Linked DNA regions of Homo sapiens: region 1 is linked to region 2. Evidence: fine-mapped expression QTL. A gene starts in region 2. The other region holds a variant in brackets. All regions are shown on one strand. Distances are between the middles of the regions. Region 1 has its middle 30 kb from the start of UGT2B4. Region 2 holds the start of UGT2B4 (UDP glucuronosyltransferase family 2 member B4).

What was found. PIP is the estimated chance that this variant, and not a neighbour inherited with it, causes the effect.
Region 1: its variant is the best candidate, but not a certain one, in a credible set for the expression of UGT2B4 in lung (TOPMed, PIP 0.86).

The regions. Positions count from the first base shown.
Region 1 is chr4:69,524,586-69,527,515 of GRCh38, reverse strand. It overlaps a transcript of UGT2B4 not described here. Among named protein-coding and RNA genes, the nearest start is that of UGT2B4, 30 kb to the right of the region's middle. The variant C/T (reference allele first, on the strand shown) is at 1,458.
Region 2 is chr4:69,494,145-69,497,074 of GRCh38, reverse strand. It overlaps UGT2B4 (UDP glucuronosyltransferase family 2 member B4), which reads left to right and starts at 1,170. Exons shown (of 6, transcript NM_021139.3): 1 at 1,170-1,934. The coding sequence starts at 1,214.

The DNA of each region.
Region 1 (2,930 bases), 30 kb before region 2:
TAAGTTTATTCATTATTTATTGAGGTATGTTCCCTTACCTAAGTTTTACTTCCCTTAAAACTTTCATCACCTTTGCGTTCATTCTTAATTACTGTAAGCCACCACTACTTTGGAATTAGTAATTATATTCTATAGTCTTTGTACATTCATTCACTGGAGAGTCAAATATTGTATTTTGTCTACCTTTCTGTTCTGCAACTTCATGTTTTGCTTTTTATTTATATAATTTTTATTATGTTGTTACTTACATAATACTATATCATACTGTATCATAATCTTAACTTTACCTTAAGGAGTGCATGTATACCTATTGAAAAGATTCTCTGTTTTCCAGAAATATTTTTCTTAGAATTATCCACGTACAATCTCTAATGTGAAGACTTTACTATCCAGGCATTATGTGCCTATCTTAGTCATCAGTATCTCTTTGTCATTGTGCTCAGTTGAGTGTACAATTTTTAGGTCTAGTGTTTTCCTCTTTATGGTCATTTCTCCTGTGTCTTCTAGTAGCTTTCAGGGAAACAGTACATTCTCAAATTTGTTACATACTGGCAACTTACTCCCAAGAAAAATTTTTTAAAAATTATATTCTGCCACCAGATCATATAAGTATCTGCTTGGCCTCTCTGGATAGGGTCAAGTTTCTAGCATAAGCAAAATTCATCTTTATTTGGCATATATATTGCAAATATAATCTTCCCACAGGACATTTGTCTTTTGCTATTATGAATAAACTTTTTAATCCAATTTGTGTGTTTCATAAAAGTGATACAGCCATACAGTAATCCTAGCATGCCTGAGCTTTGTATACAGCTTGAAAATAATATTTCCTTTCAAAGAGTTTTTAATTCAGTTTCTTCTAAGAAATTTCCTTTATTACTATTTTTTTGCATTTTTTTCTTTTCCTCTGGAGTGCCATTCATTGTCTCAATTGCTACAAGAAACTCTATTACAATCTTGCCTATTTATGAAAGAAAAAATTATCCAACTGCTAATTATAAATCTTCCTCTCAAATAGGTTCTGCTAAATAAATTACCCTGAGACTCTGACACATTTGTTGTATCCAACAAAAACAACAACAAAGAAAAAAAAATTACCAGAAACTATAAAATCTCTGATCCTTTCACCCTCTCTCAAAAATTCCATCAATGACTATATCTCCCAATTTGCTTATGGTTCTCTTCTTAGCAAGGAGAAGCTATTAAAGTTGGTTTGGGTTTTAAATAGCATTCCTTTGACTTTCTAAGCACTTAGAGACATGTCACAGCTGAAGCATAGCTTTATCTGAAAGAATTAAATGTGTTTGGCTTTCTGTACTAAATATTCTTTAAACACTCTTCACTATGGACTATCTCTATTGGAGCCTTTTTTTTTTTTTTTTTTTTTTTTTTTTTTTTTTTTTTTTTGAAACGCAGTCTGGCTCTGTGGCTCTGTTGTCCAGGCTGGAGTGCAGTGG[C/T]GCAATCTCAGCTCACTCTAAGCTCCGCCTCCCGGGTTCACGCCATTCTCCTGCCTCAGACTCCGGAGTAGCTGGGACTACAGGCGCCGGCCACCAAGCCTGGCTAATTTTTTGTATTTTTAGTAGAGATGGGGTTTCACCGTGTTAGCCAGGATGGTCTGGATCTCCTGACCTCTTGATCCACCCGCCTTGGCCTCCCAAAGTGCTGGGATTAACGGTGTGAGCCACCTCGCCCAGCCTGGAGCCCTTTCTTTAATATAAACATAAATGTTAGTCAACTTGTTTAAATATAAACATGTGAGCTGCTTGAGCACAGGGACTACATCATAATGTTTTTTGCTCTCTTACATGTCTCATCAACGAATGGATTAGGTAAGTGCTATAAATTGTGCATTGAATGTGTAATGTGAAAAAATGGCAGGTGCATAGATACCTGAGTAGATAATCTATTGTCTAACCCATATCTTGAAACTATATCACGTTGCCCAAAAAATGAGTCTCCAAAAATTTATAATTATTTATATGGAAAATACTTATTAAAAAATTAAGCTCTGAAGGAACACAAATTTCAAATGGTTCATATTTTTTTTCCAAACATGCCATTCATGTTTGGTATCATACTTTACCTAATATCATTATCTGTGTTTTGATCATTCATGTAGAAACCACATCAGTGCCTTTGCTTTTGTGCATTTCTTCTAGTCTCAGATGCAGTCAGTATTCACAAATTTAATCTCTGTTCTTCACATTTACTATTATCAAGACAAGCCCCAGCCCTTATGGTCTCATACTTAGTCTACTAATATACATTTTAATCATTTTTCCTACATGTGAGCTCTTGACTTTACTTGTCAATCTGTGTTTGGCAACAAGAGTTGATTGCTTAAAACAAAACATACAAACAAACAAACACTTGACATTTTGACTGGCTTTCTTAAATACTTGGTTATTTTTCCTGTAAATTAAAATAAAACCCCATATGTACTGTACAAAGCTATGTAAGGTCTCCAATTTCAACCAATTTTTAAAAATAATCTCTGGCACACAATTTAATCTAAAATTCATACTTACTGGAATGCTTTCTAAATACCATGACCTTTTCTCATTCTACTCACTGTGAATTCTTTCCGTTAGCCACACTCTGCCTAGATCCTGCCAAAGCTTTTGTCTTACCCTGTATGTTATCTGTCACACCAGCTTTTTCTGATTGCTCCATAGAGGGATAATTATGTTCTCTGGTTTTCTGATGACCCTGCACCAGAAACATGATGCATTATAATATGCTTCATAGGATAAGCATACCTTATTTTATTGCACTTTGTTTTATCATGCTTTGCAGATATTTGGGTTTTTTTTTCTCATAAGTTGAGGGTTTGTGGCAATCTTATAATCAAACAAATCTATTAACATGATTTTTCCAACAGCAAATCATCAATTTATATCTTTGTGACACATTTTGCTAATTTTCATAAA
Region 2 (2,930 bases):
TAACAATGTCTGCATAATTCTAAGACAATAGCCAAAAAACTATTAGGAAGTGAGTCAGAGAGCAAGCTAATGTAATAATTAATACTGAATGTACTACAGGCTTGGTTTACTTTTTTTTTTTTTTTCCCCTCCCTTTGTCCTTCATTAATTCAACAAAGTCTATAGGAATAGTTTCATCTTGAAACTCTCTAAATCATACATGATGGTTGTAAGAATCAACACGTAAATGCTATATCATAAATGAACCTTTAAAATATTATGCTAAGTAAAATAAGCCAGCCATAAAATATCACATATTGTGTGATTCCATGTATTTAAAAAATGTCCAGAATAGGCAAATCTATAGAGACAGAAATTCAAGTAGCAGTTGCCCAGGATAGGACAAATGCAGAAAGAAGGGGTAGGGAGTAAAAGGCTAAAGCTTATAGGGTTTATTTTTAGGAGATAAGAGTTCTCTAAAATTGACTCTTACGGTAGAAGCACAATTCTGTGAATATACTATGAAACATTAAATTTTACACAATAATTGATAATTTGTATGATATCTGAATTATACGTCAACAAATTTACAAAAGTTTTTGAACCACATTTAGCTATTTTATCTTTAGTTCTGTGTCAAAGAGACTGCAGGAACATGAGCCTCTCACTGCTACTCTTATGCACACTATTCTGAAATATATTACATGAGTCAGGTGATGAGTCCATCCAAGATCATTGATATTAGCTGAATTACAGCACTTAAAAATCTAGGGCTGGGTGCGGTGGCTCACGCCTGTAATCCCAGCACTTTGGGAGGCCAAGGAGGGCAGATCACAAGGTCAGGGGTTCGAGACCATCCTGCCGAATACAGTGAAACCCCATCTCTACTAAAAATACAGAAAAATTAGCTGGGTGCGGTGGCAGGTGCCTGTCTGTAGTCCCAGCTACTCAGGAGGCTGAGGCAGGAGAGTGGTGTGAACCTGGGAGGAGGAGCTTGCAGTGAGCTCTCAAAAAAAAAAAAATCCAAAAAGAACATTAAACGCACTTGTGTAAACAGGTCATCTACCTTTTATTTGTCTCTTTGTCATCCACATGCTCAGACTGTTAATATAATGTATTTACTTTGAAGTGTAAAAGTTACATTTTAACTTCTTGACTGATTTATACTGGATGTCACCATGAGAAATGACAGAAAGGAGCAGCAACTGGAAAACAAGCATTGCATTGCATCAGGATGTCTATGAAATGGACTTCAGCTCTTCTGCTGATACAGCTGAGCTGTTACTTTAGCTCTGGGAGTTGTGGAAAGGTGCTGGTGTGGCCCACAGAATTCAGCCACTGGATGAATATAAAGACAATCCTGGATGAACTTGTCCAGAGAGGTCATGAGGTGACTGTATTGGCATCTTCAGCTTCCATTTCTTTCGATCCCAACAGCCCATCTACTCTTAAATTTGAAGTTTATCCTGTATCTTTAACTAAAACTGAGTTTGAGGATATTATCAAGCAGCTGGTTAAGAGATGGGCAGAACTTCCAAAAGACACATTTTGGTCATATTTTTCACAAGTACAAGAAATCATGTGGACATTTAATGACATACTTAGAAAGTTCTGTAAGGATATAGTTTCAAATAAGAAACTTATGAAGAAACTACAGGAGTCAAGATTTGATGTTGTTCTTGCAGATGCTGTTTTCCCCTTTGGTGAGCTGCTGGCCGAGTTACTTAAAATACCCTTTGTCTACAGCCTCCGCTTCTCTCCTGGCTACGCAATTGAAAAGCATAGTGGAGGACTTCTGTTCCCTCCTTCCTATGTGCCTGTTGTTATGTCAGAACTAAGTGACCAAATGACTTTCATAGAGAGGGTAAAAAATATGATCTATGTGCTTTATTTTGAATTTTGGTTCCAAATATTTGACATGAAGAAGTGGGATCAGTTCTACAGTGAAGTTCTAGGTAAGTAACTTTTTTGATTGGTAACATGAAGATCTAACTTTCTTGTACCTTTGAAGCTGAGTTTGTATAAAGCCATAAAGTCAGGGTAGTGGGGTATTTTTGTAATGAATTTATCAAATGAAATTGTAAGATGATCTACCAAACTCACAAGCACTATAGAAAATGTAAATTATAGGATCAGTTAAAACTCTGTGGCCATCACTCATACAGAAGACTCCAGGAAGTCATAAGCCTGTATATTAGTGCACCTAAGATTTCTTTAAGCAATCACATATCTGTTTTATTATACATTTTTTCATCTTAAAAAAAAGTCAGACTTATTCAGAAACATCTTGCTGAATGCATACTGGTAGATTGAGTAGTTACACATTTTTTAGAACTATCTATATAACATTGCAGAAATTGTTTTTTCTTGTATATTTCAGTCTTATTATTTAGTAATTGCAATATGTACCCATGTTACTAGAACGTTTCCTCCACAGTTGAGAGAAATGATGTCTCCATTTCAGAATCAAAAACCAATGCATGTTATTTGAAGTTTCCAGTGTTTCTATTCCTTCACTAAAGGATTGGAAACCATTTATTTTAAGGCTAATCATCTTGTCAAAGTGTGAACATTAAGTTACAACTGTATAGTTTTTTTTTGAAACTATGTATCTTTCTTTAAAAATATGAGCCAAATTAAGGTTGAATGCAAATTTCTGTTTCAACAAGTTCTCAAAATTTTCTAGCTGTAATTTGCAAACATATTTACCTAAAAACTAATATTATTATGAGGTTAGCATGACTCAAAAGCAGTAGTAGGTACAAGGATTTCAGCCATCATTTCAAAATAATCAACAGTTAACCTGAAGAACCAAAGATAAAAGATTAGATTAATGAATGGGAAATTAGACTATTTGTTAGAAAATTGTTTTTATGGGTATGGTAGAATTAATTGATCACGGAGCTCAAAGAGTGGTTTATACGTATATCTGCTACTATCGAAGGTTTACA